Homo sapiens: one gene and its partners. The protein of the gene in region 1 interacts with the protein of each later gene in a biochemical or structural test. Each region holds a gene or a part of one and is shown on either strand. Other genes may lie near its edges.

Region 1 (7,032 bases):
ACAGGTGTGAGCCACCACACCTGGCCCCCTTCCCTTTTTCTAATCTTACCCTAGTACACTCAGTTCCCCCGCAGCCAGAGTGGTCTTTTTATAACATAAAAGCTTTCAGTGGCTTGTCATTGCCCATAGGCCAGAATCTAGACCCTTATGATCTGCTGGGCCCTACTTAGTTCTGTGGCCTCAGCTGCTGCCGTGCTCACTCTGCTTTTGCCACAGGACCCTTCTTTCTATACTTAGTATGTGTGCCAATTTTGTTCCGAATTCGTGGCCTTAGTCCTACGTGTTCCTGATGCCTCAAATGTTCTTTTCCTGGATCTTTCCAAGGATGACTCTTTAACATTCATTTCTCAGCTCCATTAACATTGCTAGAAGGCCTTTTTTGACTCTCCCATGTAAAGTAGGCCGTCAGTTACTCTCTAGTTCATGATCAATTTTGCTGGTTTCATAACATTTACTGTAGCTGAAATTTTGTTTCTCTGAGTTATTGGTAACTTTCAGACTGTCTTCAAATATTTGTTTTGTGTCTGCTGCCATCACTGGGATAGAAAATAAATAAAATCAGTCTCTTCTTGGAATTCACAGTCTAGTGAGGAGAAAAGCCACCTGAGGGTTACAAAATTATATATTCTGGAACAATTAGAATGTGCACGGGCGTTGTGGAAGCTGAGATAGGAGTGCTGACCTCTGCCTGGCATGGCTGAGCCCTCCCTGAAAGATAATTGTGTTATGTAGATAAAACTTAATGGGTTGTGTTCATTCAGCATGTATTATTATACACTATATGGTTCAGTGTCCTGACCATACTATAATTTTGTCATTCGTTTCTGATATTGAAGGAGCGCTAGGCACTGTGCTAAGTCATAGGGATGTAACAGTGAGCAAGAGACACCATCCCGCCATCAGGAAGCCTGTATTATGTTGGAGGGGTGGATAATAAAACAAAGATGTGAACCACATACTTACAGTGTAAGAGGTGCTTTGAAGGAAATAAAGATATTCATATAAAAGAGAGGAAAAAGTAGAGGGTAACTTTAAATAGAGTAGTTAGGGTGGACCACTCTGGGAATGTGTCATTAGAAAAGACATGAAGAATAGGCTGGGTGTGGTGGCTCACGCCTGTAATCCCAGCACTTTGGGAGGCTGAGGCGGGCAGATCACCAGGTCAGGAGATCGAGACTATCCTGGCTAACAAGGTGAAACCCTGTCTCTATAAAAATGCAGAAAATTAGCCAGGCGTGGTGGCGGGCGCTTGTAGTCCCAGCTACCTGGAAGGCTGAGGCAGGAGAATGGCGTGAACCTGGGAGGCGGAGCTTGCAGTGAGCCGAGATCGCGCCACTGCACTCCAGTCTGGGTGACAAAGTGAGACTCCGTCTAAAAAAAAAAAAAAAGAAAAGACATGAAGAATAAAAATGAGCCAGCCATGGAGAGCTGGGAAGACTTTTTGTTTTGTTTTGTTTTTGATTTTTTTGGAGACAGGATCACACTCTGTTGCACAGGCTAGAGGGCAGCGGCGCGATCTCGGCTCACTGAAACTTCTGCCTCCTGGATTCAAGCGATTCTCCCACCTCAACCTCCCAAGTAGCTGGGACTACAGGTGCCCACCCCCACACCTGGCTAATTTTTGTATTTTTAGTAGACACGGGGTTTCACCATGTTGGCCAGGCTGGTCTCAAACTTCTAATCTCAAGTGATCCACCTGCCTCGGCCTCCCAAAGGGCTGGGATTATAGGCATGAGCCACTAGGCCCGGCCTGAGGAGACTATTACTGGCAGAGGCACACTGCAGAGACCTTGAGGTATCGGGATAGGGTTTAGAACAAAGAGATGCCAGTGGCTGGCACAGAGCAAGAGTGATGTAAATTTGGAGAGAAAACCTAGAGCCAGATCATGCAGGTTCTTGGAGGATGAGGTAAAGAATTTGTATATAATTCCAAGAGCAATGAAAAGCTGTTAAATTATTTTAAGCAGTAGAGTGATATGATCTGATTTACATTTTTCAAAGCTGGAGGGACTGTAGAGAGGTGTCAGGGGAGGCAGGGAACTAGGTAGAAGGCCATTAATAGGAACAAGAGATGGTGGCTTGGACTAGGTGGCAGCAGTAGACATGAGGCAGAGTGGACGAATTTAGTTATGTTTTGGACGCTGTTCACAGTATCTGGATTTTAGGGATTGCAATAAAGGGAAGGATGAAGGATGATTTTGGCTTGAGCACCTGAGAATACCGGCAACAAACAGGTTTTCTTTTTTTTTTTTTTTTTTTTGAGATGGAGTCTTCTCTGTCACCCAGGCTGGAGTGCAATGGCGCAATCTCAGCTCACTGCAACCTCCACCTCCCGGGTTTAAGCAGTTCTCTTGCCTTAGCCTCTGGAGTAGCTGGGATTACAGGCGCGTGCCACCATGCCCTGTTATTTTTTTATTTTATTTTATTTTTATTTTTTTGTATTTTTGGTAGAGACGGGGTTTCAGCATGTTGGCCAGGCTGGTCTGGAACTCCTGACCTCGTGATCCGCCCCCCTCGGCCTCCCAAACTGCTGGGATTACAGGGGTGAGCCACTGCACCTGGCCACAAACAGGTTTTCTAGGGTTGGAAATTGAGAGCTATGATTTGGACATTCACCTGCAGCTGTCAGGTTGGCGCTTGGGTGTGAGTCTGGTGGTCAGTTGAAAGGTCAGGGTTGGAGATAGAAATTTGGAAAATCATCAGCACATAGAAGCCTTTTTTTTTTTTTTTTGAGACAGAGTCTCACTCTGTCACCCAGGCTGGAGTGCAGTGGCGTGATCTTGGCTTACTGCAAGCTCCACTTCCCGGGTTCACACCATTCTCCCACCTCAGCCTCCCAAATAGCTAGGGCTACAGGTGCCCGCCACCACGCCTGGCTAATTTTGTTTTTGTATTTTTAGTAGATATGGGGTTTCACCGTGTTAGCCAGGATGGTCTCTATCTCCCGACCTCGTGATCTGCCTGCCTTGGCCTCCCAAAGTGCTGGGATTACAGGCGTGAGCCACTGTGCCCGGCCTCATAAATGCTTTTTAAAGCCATGGGACTGGATATAACTAAGGATATAGTGAAGTTAAATTAAAAGAGGCCTGGAACAAAGCCCTGGGACATTCAGCACTTGGAGGTTGGAAGGGGAAGATGAGATAGTAAAGGAGACTGAGGTAAATATGACTAATGAGGTAGGAAGGAGTCCACGTTTGTAATGGAAGCCAAGACAAGGAAGGGTTTCTGCAGTGGATTATACATATTACCTCATTTTATTCTCATAACAGCCTGTGGAGGGTATTTAAGAAAACCAAGGTAAGTGTGTCTAAGTAACTTGCTCAAAAATACTCAGCTTGCAGGGCACAGTGGCTCACGCCTGTAATCCCAGCACTTTGGAAGGCCAACGCAGGAGGATCGCTTGAGCCCAGGAGTTTGAGACCAGCTTGGTAAGATAGTGAGACTCTGTCTCTACAAAACAAACAAACAAAGAATACTGAGCTGGTAAGCCCAGGCTCTTAACTGCTCAGCATATTTCTCAAAGAAAGGTGAGCCCAGTCTTGCTGATGTGTTAAAAGGTTAAGTGAGACAATTATAGCGAGTTGGATTTTGCTACACAGACATTGCTGATGTTGCTCAGAACCAACAGTGGTAAACTGGCAGAAATAAAATCCTGATCTGAGTGGGTTGAACTGTAAAGAGGAGGTGAGGACAAGCAAATAGACACTGTAGGTAACCTGGAGAACCTTTCTTGCCAAAGAGAACTAAAGTAAGGTGAGGCCATGTGCAGTGGCTCATGCCTGTAATCCCAGCACTTTGGGAGGCCGAGGCAGGCGGATCACCTGAGGTCAGGAGTTCAAAATCAGCCTGGCCAACGTGGTGAAACCCTGTCTCTACTAAAAATACAAAAATTAGCCGGGCGTGGTGGCGCATGCCTGTAGTCCCAGGTACTCGGGAGGCTGAGGCAGGAGAATTGCTTGAACCTGGGAGGCAGAGGTTGCAGTGAGCTGAGATCGCACCACTGCACTCCAGCCTTTTTTCAAAAAGAAATGAGGTGAAAGCTCGGGAATGTGGGTCAAGAGACATTTATTTGTTTTTACTTTGTTTTTTAGGTGGGGGGAATCAGATCCTGTTTGTATGCTTATGGAATTATCCAGAAGTAAAAGGGGTGAATGATGTAGAGGAGAAGGAAGGGATAACTGTGCCATCTTTGAAAAGGCAACTGGAAATGGGATCCAGAGTAAAGTGGAGAGAACCAGGGAAGATTCCATTAAACTGGACCAGAAGCTTGAAAGAAGAGAAGTGGCTTAGTAAACAAGGAACAAACTAGCTAAGTAGAAAGGGGACTTTTAAAATTTAATTTTTATTTCAATAGGCTTTTGGGAACAGGTGGTGTTGGATTATATGAATAAGTTCTTTATTGGTGGTATCTGATATTTTGGTGCACCCATCACCTGAGCAGTATACACTGTAAACCAATGTGTAGTCTTTTATTCCTCACCCCCACCCCCCGCCTTTCCCCTGAGTCCCCAAAGTCCACTGTATCATTCTTATGCCTTTGTGTCCTCATAGCGCAGCTCCCACTTATGAGTGAGAACATAAGCTGTTTGGTGTTTCCATTCCTGAGTTACTTCACTTAGAATAATAGTCTCCAATTCCATCCAGGTTGCAGTGAGTGCCATTATTTCATTCCTTGTTACGGCTGAGTAGTATTCCATGGTATATATACCACATTTGCTTTATCCACTTGTTGATTGATGGGCATTTGGGCTGGTTCCATATTTTTGCAATTGCAAATTGTGCTGCTATGAACATGCGTGTGCAAGTGTCTTTTTCGTGTAACGACTTTTTTTTTTGAGATGGAGTCTTGCTCTGTCGCCCAGGCTGGAATGCAGTGGCGTGATCTCGGCTCACTGCAACTTCTGCCTCCTGGGTTCAAGCGATTCTCCTGCTTCAGCTTCCCGAGTAGCTGGGATTACAGACGTGTGCCACCACGTCCAGCTAATTTTTGTATTTTTAGTAGAGTTGGGGTTTCACCATGTTGGCCAGGCTGGTCTTGAACTCCCGACCTCATTATCCGCCCGCCTCAGCCTCCTAAAGTGCTGGGATTAAAGGCATGAGCCACTGTGCCTGGCCTTCATATAATGACTTCTTTTCCTCTGGGTAGATACCCAGTAGTGGAATTGCTGGATCAAATGGTAGTTCTAGTTTTAGTTCTTTAAGGAGTCTTCAGAAAGGGGACTTTTTGAAGAGATACAATGGGCAAGCACTAGGACATCCAAGGATAGGAAATAAAGTGCAGCTGGCTGGGTACAGGGATGTGTGCCTGTAGTCGCAGATACTTGGGAGGCTGAGGCAGGAGGATTGCTTGAGTCCAGGAGTTCTGGTTTATTTTTTATTTTTATATATGAAAATTTTCAAACAAAATAAATTGCAACTGACCCTGCCAGAACCCAAGCTAGAAAATCACTAACCAAAGCCATCTTTTGCCTCTTGTGGTGTGCCATGGTCTATTTCTCCTGTCTCTGAGTATATATGTTGCATTCTTTTGCTTCTCAGTGTATTCATGGCTTTTCTCTTTGTTCTAACCGCTGCTTTTCTGTGGCATTGGCTGGTCAGCTCCAGCCCCTTTTGACTTTTCAGTCCCAGTCCCCACCGTCATCCAACTGACCCAGTCTCTCTGGGTCCTAGCTTGGGTGAGTCCATTCCATTCTTGATCCCATCAGCTCTGGCCAGAGGCAGGGGAGTCACCTTGTAAGTACTTAGGGTTGTCCTTTGAGAAAGACATGTGTTTGGAGAGGCAGTGACCGGCATGTTTACTACAAGTAGGAACTTTTTTTTTTGTAAGTTTTTAAATTATTATTTTTTAAATTTATTATCATTTTTTGAGACTCGCTCTGTCGCCCAGGCTGGAGTACAGTGGCGTGATCTTGGCTCACTGCAAGCTCTGCCTCCCAGGTTCAAGTGATTCTCCTGCCTCAGACTCCTGAGTAGCTGGGCTTACATGCATGGACCACCACACCCAGCTAACTTTTATATTTCTAGTAGAGACGGGGTTTGACCATGTTGGTCAGGCTGGTCTTGAACTCCTGTCCTCATGATCCACCCGCCTCGGCCTCCAAAGTGCTGGGATTACAGGCATGAGCCACTGCGCCCAGCTACTGATAGTCTAATTTCAGATCAGTAGGTCTCTGAATTGTGTCCTGCGTTGTCAGAATTAATTAATTAATCTATTTATTATGGAGTTTCACTCTTGTCTCCCAGGCTGGAGTGCAGTGGCGTGATCTTGGCTCACTGCAACCTCCGCCTCCTGGGTTCAAGCAATTCTTCTGCCTCATCCTCCTGAGTGGCTGGGATTACAGGTGCCCGCTACCACGCCTGGCTAATTTTTGTATTTTTAGTAGAGACGGGGTTTTTTCGCCAAGTTGGCCAGGCTGATCTCTAACTCCTGACCTCCAGTGATATGCCCACCGCAGCCTTCCAAAGTGTTGGGATTACAGGCGTGAGCCACTTGCCCAGCCTACTGTTGACATTTGTTCCTAAGAAGTGTGGAAAGAACTGAGAAGTAGTAGGGGCAAGATGTTTACTCTTTCCTTTTTTAAGAAATAATTTATCTGCTATTATAGGTCATATTTATATGAGATGTGTTTGCCTCATATAAATCAGACAATTGTTGGAAGTGGATAGGGAGAAACAGCAAGTTTTACTTGAAAACAATCTTAAAAAATGAAAATATCTTGTTAGATTCTAAGACTAAATAATTTAGAACCTAGCTTTAACTCAAAACTACATTTTAGAAAGCTATATTTAAGAAAGACTTGGAATTTTTTTTTTTTTTTTTTAGACAGTCTTGCTTTGTTGCCAAGGCTGGAGTGTAGTCCCAGAATCTTGGCTCACTGCAACCTCCGCCTCCTGGGTTCAAGCTATTCTCCTGCCTCAGCCTCTGAAGTAGCTGGGATTATAGGCATGTGCCACAATGCTGGGCTAACTTTTGTATTTTTAGTAGAGACTGGGTCTCACCACGTTGTCCAGGCTGGTCTTGAACTCCTGACC
Region 2 (7,996 bases), on another chromosome or scaffold:
GCAGGCCGACCACAAGGTTAGGAGTTCGAGACCAGCCTGGCCAACATGGTGAAACTCCATCTCTACTAAAAATACAAACAGTAGCTGGGCATGGTGGCGGGTGCCTATAATCCCAGCTACTCGGGAGGCTGAGGCAAGAGAATTGTTTGAACCCGGGAGGCGGATGTTACAGTGAGCTGAGACTGCGCCATTGCACTCCAGCCTGGGCAGCAGAGTGAGACTCTGTCTCAAAAAAAAAAGAAAAGTATTCTGATGAGACTTCTGAATAAGAGGTGGAAGCTGGCTCAGGACAAAATATTTGTGCTAGAGCAGAACGGGCAGGGGAGGAACAAAAGTGGAGGCAGGCCAGGTGCGGTGGCTCACGCCTGTAATCCCAGCACTTTGGGAGGCTGAGACGGGCGGATCACCTGAAGTCAGGAGTTTGAGACCAGCCTGACCAACATGGAGAAACCCCGTCTCTACTAAAAATATGAAAAAATTAGCTGGGCGTGGTGACGCATGCCTGTAATCCCAGCTACTCGGGAGGCTGAGGCAGAAGAATCGCTTGAACCTGGGAGGCGGAGATCGGGACATTGCACTCCAGCCTGGGCAACAAGAGCAAAACTCAAAAAAAAAAGAAAAGGGGGAGGCAAAGGAAAAAACTCCCTGAAAGCTCATACAATGGCAGGGAGTGAATGTGTCTCTCAGGAATCTCTTGCCTTTTTCACCCAAACATTAAGCCCTCCTCAATCTGCTTTTGGCTTCCATTATAGCCTTTGTTTGGGTTTATTCAGGAAAACTAACTGTTTTGAAAAAGCACTATAACTGTGCTTCCTCTGGTCTCACACCACACTACAACAATCAACACAGAAGATTTCCATGATCTGGCTGGGCGTGGTGGCTCATGCCTGTAATCCCAACACTTTTGGAGGCCAGGGTGGGCGGATCACTTGAGGTCAGGAGTTTGAGACCAGCCTGGCCAACATGGGGAAACTCCATCTCTACTAAAAAAAAAAAACACAAAAATTAGTGCGTGTGGTGGCATATGCCTGTAGTCCCTGCTACTCTGGAGGCTGAGGCAGGAGAATTGCTTGAAACTGTGAGGTCGAGGTCACAGTGAGCTGAGATCGCACCACTACACTCCAGCCTGGGCAACAGACCAAGGCTCTGTCTCAATGGAAAAACAGAAAGAAGAAGATGACTTCCATGATCCCGAAATATATGGGGATTTCTCCCCACCAACAAGCAAGCAGTCGGTTCTGAGGCAGACACCAGCTGGGTGCACTCCACTTCAATTCTGACACTCTATCTAGGGATACCGCCAGATCCCAAGGGTTGAGGGCTCAGTCCCCAAGACATCAGTTGCAATTCTAGGCCTCCAGAACTTCTGACGGATCAGCTTGAAGCTGGGGTTTCCATGATCCCTTCTTTGGGTTTGATTAATTTGATAGAATAGCTCACAGAACTCAGGGAAACACTTATGTCTACTGATTTTTTATAAAGGATATTACAAGTAACACAGATGAAGAGATGCGCAGGGCGAGGTAGGTATGGGAGAAGGGGTGAGGACCTTCCATGGCCTCTCCCCATGTGCCACTTTGTGTGTATTCAGCTATCCAGAAGCTCTCTGAAACCTCTCCTCTTGGGTTTTTGTGTGTGTGTTATTTTTGTTTTTTTTTTGAGACCGAGTCTTCCTCTGTTGCCCAGGCTGGAGTGCAGTGGCATGATCTTGGCTCACTGCAACCTCCACCTCCCGGATTCAAGTGATTCTCCTGACTCAGCCTCTTGAGTAGCTGGGACTACAGGTGCCCGCCACCACGCCCGGCTAATTTTTTGTATTTTTAGTAGAGATGGGGTTTCACGGTGTTAGCCAGGATGGTCTCGATCTCCTGACCTTGTGATCCGCCCACCTTGGCCTCCCAAAGTGTTGGGATTACAGGCGTGAGCCACCGCGCCCGGCCAATTTTTGTATTTTTAGTAGAGATGGGATTTCACCCTGTTGGCCAGGCTGGTCTCAATCTCCTGACGTCAAGTGATCCGCCAGCCTTGGCCTCCCAAAGTGCTGGGATTACAGGCATGAGCCACCACGTCCGGCTCTTGGGTTTTTATAGAGGCTTTATTAGGAAGGCATGATTGATTAAGCATTGATCATTGACCCTCTGCCCTACTGAGAAGTTGAGGGTGGGGCTGAAAGTCTCAACTCCCATTATGTCTTTGTCTTTCCAGTGACCAGCCCTATTCTGAAGCTGTTAGTCACATTAGCATACAAAAAGGCAGGAGTCTGGAGATTCCCAAGACTTTAGGAGTTGCAGGCCAGGAAATGGGATGAATACCAGATATGTATTTCACAACATCACACAGACAAATAAACAAAAAACACTCAATGCATTTCAAGCAGAGGAGAATTAAATGTCAGGAATGGGTGCATACAAAACCACTGGAAGAACTGGAAGAGCAAAAACCAGGGAATACCAACGCTATCTTCAGGTCAACCACTGAAGCTCTAGTCTAGTACACAGAAATTCCTGCTGGGGAACTGCAGGACATTCCCATTGGTGGATACAGCTTCCCAGCTACCTCAAGATGGGGTGCTGGTAAGGAAGCATGTCATGTCTGCAGTGGTCCATGCATCTGTCTGCTGCAGTCAGAAAATAAGAAAACAGTTTTTACCTTTGTTCCATTTCCCAATTCTCTCTCTCTCTCTTTTTTTTTTTTTAGGCAGAGTCTTGCTCTATCACCCAGGTTGGAGTGCAGTGGTGCGCTCTCCGCTCACTGCAACCTCTGTTTCCCAGGTTCAAGTGATTCTCATGCCTTAGCCTCCTGAGTAGCTAGGACTACAAGCACGCCCACCAAACTTGGCTAAATTTTTTTTCATATTTGTAGTAGAGATTGAGTTTCGCCATCTTGGCCAAGCTGGTCTTGAACTCCTGTCCTCAAGTGACCTGCCCGCCTCGGCCTCCCAAAGTGCTGGGATTACAGGAGTGAGCCACCGCACCCGGCCCCAATTCTCATATACATATATGTGTGTATATATACATGTTTTTTTTTGGCAGAAGGCAAATAACATCCATCACCACGGAGCCAAAGGGATCTGGGAATTATTGTTCCCTGGCTTCCAGTCCCTCTGATACATAGAAACAACATAGACAGGAATAGGAATAAATGCAGATTACCTCCTCCCTCCAATCCTTCCCCACAACCCCCACCATCTGGCACTGAGGAGATCTCCCAACTTTTATGAAGGTTGTAATTTCAATTCCAAATGGCCGAAAAACTTTTCGGAGACATTCAGCCCAGCCGTCCTAGCTCACCACCCGCCTCCGTCTGCCATACAGACATTTTACCTACTGTTCTTTGTGGTGTATTTTCCTGCCCTCTTTTCCATCTCTACTTTCCTGCCTCTCTGGATAGTCTGTGCCTCCTGGGTACGGAGCCCAGAATCTGTTAAGGGTGATTGGAGGAGGAAACTTAGCAGATAAGCAAGAAAGAGAACAGGTTTTATTTTCCCCTAGTCTAAGTACAAGTAATGTTCTGATTACTTCTGTCCTCTCTTCCCCATATTAGAACAACTGGAATTTTAAAAGTTCATTCTCTTGCTAAAACTGTCATGAGACAGCTGGAGATGGTACATTTACAAAAAATCCAGTTCTAGATGGCTAACTTTCAAAGTAAGACGACAGTGAACAATGTCTATCTTAATATCCTTTGTACTTTTGCTGGGCGCAGTGGCTCACGCCTGTAATGACGGATCACGAGGTCAGGAGATCGAGACCATCCTGCCTAAAACGGTGAAACCCCGTCTCTACTAAAAATAAAAATAAAAAATGGCCGGCCGTGGTGGCACGTGCCTGTAGTCCCAGCTACTCAGGAGCCTGAGGCAGGACAATCGCTTGAACCCGGGAGGTGGAGGTTGCAGTGAGCCAAGATCGCGCCACTGCACTCCAGCCAGGGCGACAGAGCGAGATTCCGTCTCAAAAACAACAACAAAATATCCTTTGTAGTTTTACACACACACGTATATGTATATACAGTACATATATTTAAAAAAACATATACACACACACACACAGTTCTTTTTTTTTTTTTTTTCCTGAGTCTCGTTCTGTGGCCCACGCTGGAGTGCAGTGGTGCGATCACATCTCACTGCAGCCTGAAACTCCCTGACTCAAGCAATCCTCCCACCTCAGCCTCCAGAGTAGCTGGGACTTCAGAAGCACGCAACCACGCCCCACTAATTTTTGTATTTTTTGTAGAGACAGGGTTTCACAATGCTGCCCAAGCTGGTCTCGAACTCCTGGGCTCAAGCTATCCTACCGCGTCGGTTTCCGAAAGTGTTGCGATTACAGGCGTGAGCCATAGCGTTACATGTGGTGGGGGGGAAGAGAGAGAAAGAGAGAGAGTGAGAAGAAGGAGGAGGAGGAGGAGGAGGAGAAAGAAGGAAGAAAGAAAAGAAAAGAAATATAGAGAGGGTGTTCAAATCTACTGTTCAAGTGCTTTCCATGTACATATAATCTCTTTTTAAAATCCCATCCAGCTCTGTTGAGATGAGAAAACTGAAGCTCTGAGAGGTTGAGTAACTTTATCACGCTCCCGCAAAGATAAAAGAACCGCCATCTGCCCATATTAATTTCCCTGAGATGAAATGTGACAGAGAAAGATACCTCAAAATTAAGGAAATGGAGAGCTTCGAGAATCATCTTCCATCTCCGCCGAGTCCCCCAGGAACTTGGCCCGGAGTCTTTGGGCTGTCCCACCTGATCTTGCCCCAGTGCGGCTCCACACCCTGGCGGGCGGCGTACGGAGCGTCCCGGCCCCCGGCACCAGCCAGCGTCGGAGTGGGTAGGACTGGAGATGGCAGCCTCCGGTCCAGGGGAAGCGGGACTCCACGGAAGGGCTGGGAAGAGGGTAGGAAGAGGGGGCGGGGGCGGGAACTGTTCCGCCCCCTCCCCCTCTGTCTACTTTCATTGGCCAAGGGCTTCCTGGCCCCAACCCACCTCCCGCCTCCAGGGCGCCGCTTAAAGTGTGCGGAGCAGGTGCCTTGGGTGGAGCCACAACTTTGCGCGAGTGTCTTGGTTGAGCGCAGCGCCCATTCATTGCCCGCGAGCGTCCATCCATCTGTCCGGCCGACTGTCCAGCGAAAGGGGCTCCAGGCCGGGCGCAGCCGCCACCCGGGGGACCGAGGCCAGGAGAGGGGCCAAGAGCGCGGCTGACCCTTGCGGGCCGGGGCAGGGGACGGTGGCCGCGGCCATGCAGTCCTGTGCCAGGGCGTGGGGGCTGCGCCTGGGCCGCGGGGTCGGGGGCGGCCGCCGCCTGGCTGGGGGATCGGGGCCGTGCTGGGCGCCGCGGAGCCGGGACAGCAGCAGTGGCGGCGGGGACAGCGCCGCGGCTGGGGCCTCGCGCCTCCTGGAGCGCCTTCTGCCCAGACACGACGACTTCGCTCGGAGGCACATCGGCCCTGGGGACAAAGACCAGAGAGAGATGCTGCAGACCTTGGGGCTGGCGGTAAGGACCTCCACCCGGCCCTCCGCGGCCTCCCCTCCGCCCTGCCCGGGCTCTGCCTGCGCGGCCTCCCGGCTCCTACCCTGAGCTCTGCTGCGCTCCGCGTGGTCCCCGCACCCTGGGTCCCGGGCCGTGGCGTGGAAGCAAATTCGTGCCTTTGGTCCTCGTGCCTTCTTACTTCTTAACAGCTTACTTTCTCCTGCACCCAGTCTTCGTGCCTCAAAAGTGTACATTTTTAAACCACCCCCAGCCCAAGTGGCCCTGTGGATGGACCTAAACTTTGCAAGAGGAGGAAGACCCCCTGATTAAGAGTGGGCTTACCGGTTAGCTCCGGTTGCAACTGAAATCCAACCCCGAGTGGCGGAATCTCCACCCCACTTCACGATTTTCTTTCCTCCAAATCATTCTGGCTTGCTCAGAGTTTTCCTTTTCTTTTAAAAAGAACCCTAATTAGGCGATTTCAATGAGGTTCCCACAAGGCTTTGTAGTCGCAAAACACAGAGGTGACTCTTTTAACTCAGAGGCACTTTCCTCTGCCTTGCGTTTTAATTTTAGAGCATTGATGAATTGATCGAGAAGACGGTCCCTGCCAACATCCGTTTGAAAAGACCCTTGAAAATGGAAGACCCTGTTTGTAAGTGGCCGGGAGGGCTCCCTTGGACTTAGATTATTCTGGCCTATTTGTCTTTTGTGGTTCCCTGAAAATCGAGCTCTGGGGTAAGGATTGCTCAGGACTGGGAATGTGTGGATTAAAATAAAACAGTGGCGGGTACCTCCGGAGCCGCGGGAAGGTGGGATATTTGGTTCTCGGAGCAGACAGTTTTGTGTTAGGAGAGAGTCGGTGTTGTGCGGTTCTTGGTCTTTATCCTAGGGCCCCCGCGAGCTTCCCCTGCGTTTTGTAGCAGATTCCCCACTTCCCAGGCACCCTCTCACCGGCCAGGGTGCTCTCATACTTTGGGTTGAGAGGTGTCATTACCTGCGCAGACCCGGATAGACTCAAAGGATCTAGGAATTGCCTAAGGTCGTGCAACTGGGGAAGTGACCAGACATCTCGCCTCCCTCCCCCAGGCTTCTTTAGATCGCAGTATCTTCCAATTGTTTTCTTACCTCACGTCCAAATTTTATTATTTACCAACTGAAAGACAGCAGTACTTTTCGAGTCCGAATGGTTTTTCTTTTCTTTTCTTTTTTTTTTCGTTTTTTTTTTTTTTTTTTTTTGAGACAGAATCTCTGTCGCCCAGGCTGGAGTGCTGTGGCTTGATCTCGGCTCACTGCAACCTCCGCCTCCCTGGTTCAAGCAATTCTCCTGCCTCAGCCTCTTGACTAGCTGGGATTACAGGGGCGCACCACCACACCAGGCTCATTTTTATATTTTTATTAGAGACAGGGTTTCTTCATGTTGGCCAGGCTGGTGTCGAACTCCTGACCTCAGGCAATCCGTCTGCCTCGGCCTCCCAAAATGCTGGGATTACAGGCACGAGTCACTGTGCCCTACCCCGAATGGTTTTTCTAGAAAAACACACAAATAAGATTTACATTTGTTTAAGAAAGGTCAGTTTAGTCATAGACTTTCTTAGAATTTTATTTTAGGTTTAAAATATTTTTAATGGTCCAAGATTGCTTTTCAGGGGTATTTTTATGTGGGTATTTGACTTCCATGGGGTGGGGGGACAATCCATAAGTCAAGGGCACAGGCTGAGCTCTTAAAAAAAATCTCATCTGGTTATCTCACTTTCAATCATGGAGATACTTATCTCTTTTTCTTCTAGAGTCAAATGAAGAGAGAGCAGCTGTTTTATTTTGTTGCTATGATAGAAAGGATCTAGTGTGCAGATGGCAAGCTTTATTTTGTTTGAAGGTGGACATTTGAGGTATGGAGCCTATCTGCTTCAGGTTGGCTGCTCAGGCTATGCTGAGGGCTGCTGCCTTTGTTGGTTTCAAATCTGATGGTCGTTGAAAACCTGCATGTTTTGCTGAATTGAACTAATTGAGATTTAGGGATGGTCGGAGGGAAGCCTTATCTATTTCCATTTTAGAAAATCAGAATCCTGGCTGGGCACGGTGGCAAATGCCTATAATCTCAGCATTTTGGGAGGTCTAGGCAGGTGGATCGCTTGAGGCCAGCAGTTTGAGACCAGTTTGGGCAATATTGCGAGACCCCATCTCTACAAAAAATACAAAAATTAGCCGGGTGTGGTGGTGTGCGCCTGTAATCCCAGCTACTCCGGAGGCTAATGTGGCAGAAACACTTGAGCTGGGCAGTGGAGGTTGCAGCGAGCCAAGATGGCTCCACTGCACTTCCACCTGAGTAACAGAGTGAGACCCTGTCTAAAAAAAAAAGAGAAAGGAAGAAAAGAAAAAATCAGAATCCTAATTCATTTGATGTGTGAAGAGTGAAGAGTTGTGTATCTTTAAAGCAGGGTATTTTAGGTGAATATTTGAACAAGTGAATCCCTTCCTGAGACTTTCAAAGTCAGGGAATGTTTAGGTTAGCTATTTTTATAATATATATACTCTA
Region 3 (6,678 bases), on another chromosome or scaffold:
ATATCTTTGTTGGGGTGTTACCAAATGTTACATCGCAAATTTTAAATCTGTGCATTTTGTTTAAATTATACCTCAATTTTGGCCAGGCATGGTGGCTCACACCTGTAATCCAAACACTTTGGGAGGCCGAGGCGGGTGGATCACAAGGTCAGGAGTTGAAGACCAGCCTGGCCAACATGGTGAAACCCCATCTCTACTAAAAATACAAAAATTAGCCAGGTGTGGTGGCCCGCACCTGTAGTCCCAGCTACTTGGGAGGCTGAGGCAGAAGAACTGCTTGAACCCAGGAGGCAGAGGCTGCAGTAAGATGAGATCGCACCACTGCACTCCAGCCTGGGTGACAGAGCGAGACTCCATCTCAAAAAAAAAAGAAAAAAAATTTTACCTCAATTTTTACAAATTTGAAGTACTATGTATCTACTGGGTCCTAAAATTAAATATAATCTACCACACATAGGAAGCATCTAATCAATCTTGTTATTAAAAACCAACACAGGACATTCAGAAAGCAGATATGAAGCTTTAATTCACCATAGGCATTTCTCCAACCATTCTGTACATTAAACTTTCATGTCTTCACACATATACATCTTTTATAAGACAGTTTTCTTAGCAATATGGTACTCTGTACCATACCAACATTCCATTTAACTAGTTAAGGGTGTATTATATAACATGAACCACTGATTAAATATAAATACAGAAGTTGAATACATAGGTTAGAAAGTTTAAATTTTAAAAAAATTTAAGAAAGGCTAAATACCATGAAAGTTTACATGTATTCTTTAATTCTAGACACCGTACAACAGTGACAACCAATTACAATAAAATCACAATTGCTTTTAGATGACAGTACTTTCAGATTTCTAATACCCAATTACTTTCATTTCCACAATGTCAACTTCATGCTGCATTTTCATTTCTATAGAGCAGACAAGCTTCCAGACTGCAGACCAAGTTTCTTGTGTAATAATACTACTATCTTGATCATGACCACAGGAAACCAATTTTATATTCCCTGTACTATAGAGATGAGACATTATTTGGTGTATATGAAACTCTTCAGTGGTGGTGTTCAAGAATATTCAAATAGTAGCTGAAAATAGGGTTTGCTAGAGCAGTCCACATATTTCATTAAAAGAAAAATGCCCAGTCAAAACATTTAGAAATAAATATATAGTACAGCCTTTCCCTCTCCCAAATACTACCCAGGAAAAAAGTTCCAAGCTGACTTAAAAAAAAAAAAACACACAAATAAAAACAAAAACACCTCAAAAAATAAACATTATATGATATTCTGAGCAGCAATCTTCCTGAGTCTATTTTCAATTGAAACAAATTCTGCAGCCAATAGTACACTGATTCAGTATCCACAGTCCAGAAGGAGTTCTTGAACATCTAGTTCATATCCCCAAAAAATGTGAAAAGACTCCTAAACACCCAAGTTATTACACAATGGGAAGCTGATATTGGCTTGTATTAAAATCCAGGTGAATATCAAACATAATCACAGCCTTAACAGTGATGCTAGAATAAGTGATGACAATATGTGCACAGCTGTATACAGATCACTATTAAACACAGGAACAAAATGCCACTTGATGCATATCAAAAAGCCAATTTGAATATATTTATTTCATTTACATTGATACAGTATTAGAAGGGACTGAATATAATTATGGAGACTGCTGCAAACATTTGATGCCACTAAGTATTCTATTAAGCATCAGGCATGCACAGTAGTTACCTTTTAAAGTTTCTCATGTATATATCTTAACACATATATCTTAAGCTACAATATGTTTAAAGCATTTAGTCATTTTAAACCCAAATATTTTAATTGACCTATGTCTAAATGGAGAAAAACAGAAACTTCCTCCTGTCTCAATACCCGATGGCAATATTAAACCTTACTCCCCAAATTGATATTTAAACTTATTTATGTCATCTTTAAAATTCCAAAAATAATGAAAAGTCTTATCATTACTAAATAAGAAGTACGATTCCCCGGCAGCAGTCTACCCACCACACACTTACGGCATGCCAAGCCTTTGGGGATTACATAAGAGTGATGTGCTGGTGGCTACAGATGACAATAATTGAAGAGATCAGTCTCTTCTTTTTATTCTGGATCTCCTTATTTTAAACTAAAGCTTTTCATTAATACAAATAAAAAAATCTTTTTTTCTTTCTTTAACTTCAATAGAAGAGTAGATAAAACTAAAAACCCTTATTGTCTCCAAGTGTGTGGCAAAATAGAAAATCTTTCAATTACATTAGGAAATCGGGTGGATAACGGAGTATAGTTATTCCACTTAAGAAGCATTCCAGTCAAATAATCACAAAAACAAATTCAGATTGCTTGGATCTTGGTCATTTATGGCTTGAAGAACTGGATTTGAAAACCACTTTAGGCTAAAATAAATGTATATGAATAATGCATAGACTGTGTATCTAGAAAATCATGCAATAAATATATGTTCTCATGTACACTGGAATCTCAGTGAAGAAAGGTGTGAACAGTACTGTTTCTTCACTTTAACCAAGAGACTACACACAGCAAGATACTTGCTTTTGGCCTATTCAAGATCTTATTTGCCAGGTCATCCTAATTTTCTCAGGTTGGTAAAAGAAGCTAATGTTTCAAGACACCTGTGATAAAGAAGTGACTTGCTTCAAGTGCAGGTGCCATGAAATCTGAGCTAGGCAGGACCAGACTCTCCTGACCCTGCCACCCTGCTGCAAAGTCAATTTGGAGTACCTGACTAGCTAGAGTATCAAAAGGGTAAATGCTTAGAATGACCAACTGGAAATGTTTATTATAGTAGTATCTTTTTAAAAAATCTGCCCTTTAAATGTATATCATTTGAGAATTGCCAGTGAAAGAGCCACTCACTATTCTTGGTTTTGATACGCCCCTACAACATGAGAATTGAACTGAACTACAATGATTGTAATGTCATCTCTGTACATTCGAGCAAGCTCTTCAGGAAGACTAAGCATTTTAGAGAGGCGCTCATGATCAACAGTCCCAAACTCGTTGTTGCCCACAGCGTGGCGAATGAGATGGGTTGCTGCGTTCTGATCCTCAAATACCGAGGACATTTTGGTTCTCCTTTCTGTTAAAAGGCCATGCATCTGTCCCAGAGTCACCTTGTAGCCACCAACAGCTATTGGCTGTTGGTGATGCATGCCAGTTAGGTACTCACCCACAATCCTAACCACATCCTGCCTATGCATAGTCTCCCACAACCCATCAGTAGCCAACACCAGAAACTTATCCTGTGGCCTTAATCGGTGGTAAGTTACCTCTGGCTCAGCAGTGAGATAAGGAGGTGTGTGATAATTAGGAGGAATAAACTTGGTATATTCATTGTCATTCAACTGGTCTGGGCCAGATTCTATCACTCTCTTTTGAAGGTCAATGCTCCATTTGAACTTTACATCTCCAAATGCCCTAAATGGCATCAGCAAGCCAAGCAGCCGATCCTGTTTCACGACACTCTTGGCCTCACTCTTTGGATGTTCCAATTTCAGCCGTTCTAGTTCTCTTTCATTTTGAGCATTGTGGTCATTAGACAGCGTGACTGCTGACCATGAGCCGTCCTCTTCCTGCACACCCAGCATGGCTCTGCTATCGCCAGTATTGGCCACATGAAGGTCAACACCATCCACATGGGCCACACAAGCAGTGGCTCCAGAAAATGCCACTCGAAGCACCAGGTAGTTGAGAAAAGAATTAGGATCACCAACTTGCGCCTCCAAGGAGATGTCATTATCAAGCCTCTTGAAGGCATTAATTAGAGCCTCCTTAACATCAATATCAGTCGACTCACCAGTGTTGAGGTCTATAAGCTCTTGCCAGTAAGTCCTCAAGCTGTTAAAGTACAATTTGGATGCCTCCTTACTAAAGTAATCATTGGGGTGCTTGTGCCACTGGAGAATGGGTAGCAGTGCCCGGCCGCTCTCCACTGCATTTTCAATCTCTAGCAAAGTCTCATGGGGTAACAAAGAGACAGCAATATAATAAAAGAGTCTTTCACTGACTGCCTGGGAACAAGCACAACCTGCATGGCCATCAAAAACCCCCAAAAGCATCCCTCTGGTCTGCAAGCAGGTTGCTGCACTTCTCCGGTCCTCAATGGGTGCATTTGCAGGCAGCTGATTGCTGTCAAATCCAAGGATAGAACTGACATTTTTGCCGTCAAATTCTGGCACTTTGAAACTGTATTCATTAGCTTTAAGGATGCTATTGACTTGTGGAGGTGTGAGGTAAAATTTCTGTGGTGTGGAAGCATATCTCCTTCCTTGGGTGTACTGCCACCAGTTCTCCTTTGGCCTGCAAAAGGTAGCATATGCTGGATGAGGTGTGTATCTCAGTCGACTCTGAGGAATGTACGATGAGGAACAACAGAGATGTTTGTGGTGGCAGTAACATGCAGTGCCATAGATCCTGCTCAGTTCACAGTTACGGATGAGAGGAAAAAACAGTTGAGTTGGTGCTGGCATGGCATCAGAGAACAGTGGCAGGCTGGAACTTCTGACTGGGATTCCTAGACAGCAAATTAGACAGATGTACACAAAGGAAAGAGTTACATTTCAGGATACTTAATCTAGCTTTGCCTTTATAACAAATATTAAGCAAGTCAATCTACATGTTAAGCCTTTGCTAGAAGGTACTACATTTTATACACACATCATGTACTATTTCTACAGGGTATATTCTGGCAGGCACAACTCCCAATCATTCGTGGAACCACGACTGAACTCCTGGCTCCTATACTCAAACTTCAATTTTCTCTTTTCTTTGTCGTCCTTTGTGCAGTACAAACTGTGCAGAATGTACAACAGATTTGGCTGGGGAAAGCTGAGGAGATGAAGGTTATATAACATTATGCAGTAGCCGTCTACCTGACCAATCATCCTTCTCCCTCCCTATTCTTAAAAAATGCCTTGAAATCTCCCATTTTACACAGGGACTTCTTCCATTTATGAAGACCCTTTACATAGACCTGTGGTCAATTTTTGGCATGATTACACATGGCTATGACCAAAAATGTTAAGAGGCAGCCAAACATATGTGTATTTATGAATTACGTGTACATCATATACATATATGACTACAGTAATATGCATTGTAACATATATAGAAAAATTTCTACATAATTAAATAAAAAAAGAAATTCCAGTATTTCTCTCCTGTACCCCAGTAGATGGTCTTGCAAAACTTGCTTCTCTAGTCCACTGTGGCAATTTGCCAGGCTAACGGGCATAGGTCTGCCACCAACTCCCAAATAATCTTGGAAAAGTCAGCTCACATCTTTGAGTCTCACTCTTCTAACCTGTAAAGGAACATCAACAGAGCAGATGCTATCTAAGGCTCTTCTAGGATTCATGCCTTTATGCTTATGGAAGTGAGGTTTTTAAATAAAATTCAGGTTTCATTTATTCACTGTTGAATTCTACCGTGCCCTTCATGATTAAAAAAAAAAAAAAAGTTTAAGTATTGCAGTAGCTCTAAAGCTTTGTTAGTAACATAAATGGTTTCAGTCCTAGAACTTAATTTACCTACTAACAATGTTCCCTGCTTAGCAGCTATAAGGAAAACCCATAGAAGTATTTTCATCTACTATGGATCCAAAGTAGAATTAACCCCTAGAAAAATGTTTTCTTGGATATGGTAATCACTCTGATTTGATCATTACACAATGTCTACCAATATATACATGCACTGAAACATCACATTGTACCCCATAAATATATAATATTATGTGTCAATTGTAAATTAAAAATAAATTTTAAAAGACCAAAAATGTTTTCTCTCACATTAAAAAAAAAAAAAAAAGGTATTTACTTGCTCCAGGGAAGCAGTATAGTCAAATAATAGTCTAAGGTTTGGATTGAAAAGGTACAGCAATATAATTACAAACTTAAAAAAAATCCTATCACTCACTATGTGCGCTGAAAATAATTTCTGGGCATTTATTTGGGAAATTTAATGAATATATCATTAATCTAGATAATTTGGGCAAGAAAAAAAATCCCTCTTCTTCCTCAATAACATATATTTTCCCTGAATTCTTGAGATACTGCTTCAAAATAGTCATTTGTACTATAAAGAAACACTTTGGAAATACTTTAAATAAACAAATGCAATAAACAAAAAGGAACACAGAAAATAAAACCATCTGAGTTAATAGCAACTATTCCTTCCCACGGCTAAACAAATATCATAGCATGTGTCAGCCATATATTATTTTCATGTACCTTTTTTGAAGAATAATTTGAGAAAAAGTAATAAATTGGGGTAGAGGGAAGCAAAGAAAACTAAACACTGAATAATCACTGATTCTTGTTTGTTTCTGTAATAAGCACTGCATAAGCCAGCCACACAGATTCTCTTCTGCAAGTAGTAGAAAGTACCATCATTTTAACTGCACTATCTAAGAAGGGATTTGTTTACGAAAATGAAGACAAGATCAGGCAATAGAAAGTAATGGCTAAAATTTTGGAAATAAGAATCCGTAACTAAAAAAGCATTCTGAAATGCACTAATGAAAAACAGAAATTCCAGAAAAACGGGAATCCATCAGGAGTAACCATTTAAATAAAAGAAATTCAAACTGAATACCTGAAAGTCATCCAGAGGTTAAGTGTACATGACTGAGCCAGAAGATG

The links. The genes of interacting proteins can lie anywhere in the genome.
Region 2: of the proteins of ACAT1 (region 1) and GLDC, one has a biochemical effect on the other in vitro, tested with the Homo sapiens proteins (one study listed by BioGRID).
Region 3: the proteins of ACAT1 (region 1) and PDP1 form a complex in vitro, tested with the Homo sapiens proteins (one study listed by BioGRID).

Annotation. Positions count from the first base shown.
Region 1 is NC_000011.10:108,124,552-108,131,583, forward strand, and holds part of ACAT1 (acetyl-CoA acetyltransferase, mitochondrial isoform b precursor), read left to right. Parts: intron 1-3,334; exon of another isoform or gene 3,335-3,428; intron 3,429-4,091; exon of another isoform or gene 4,092-4,308; intron 4,309-4,551; exon of another isoform or gene 4,552-4,650; intron 4,651-7,032. UniProt on the Homo sapiens protein: This is one of the enzymes that catalyzes the last step of the mitochondrial beta-oxidation pathway, an aerobic process breaking down fatty acids into acetyl-CoA.
Region 2 is NC_000009.12:6,642,730-6,650,725, reverse strand, and holds the start of GLDC (glycine dehydrogenase (decarboxylating), mitochondrial precursor), read left to right. Parts: upstream 1-4,996; 5' UTR 4,997-5,226; coding exon 5,227-5,481; intron 5,482-6,033; coding exon 6,034-6,112; intron 6,113-7,996. UniProt on the Homo sapiens protein: The glycine cleavage system catalyzes the degradation of glycine.
Region 3 is NC_000008.11:93,919,891-93,926,568, reverse strand, and holds the end of PDP1 (pyruvate dehyrogenase phosphatase catalytic subunit 1), read right to left. Parts: intron 5,343-6,678; exon of another isoform or gene 5,206-5,342; intron 4,554-5,205; coding exon of another isoform or gene 4,510-4,553; coding exon 2,896-4,509; 3' UTR 501-2,895; downstream 1-500. UniProt on the Homo sapiens protein: Mitochondrial enzyme that catalyzes the dephosphorylation and concomitant reactivation of the alpha subunit of the E1 component of the pyruvate dehydrogenase complex (PDC), thereby stimulating the conversion of pyruvate into acetyl-CoA.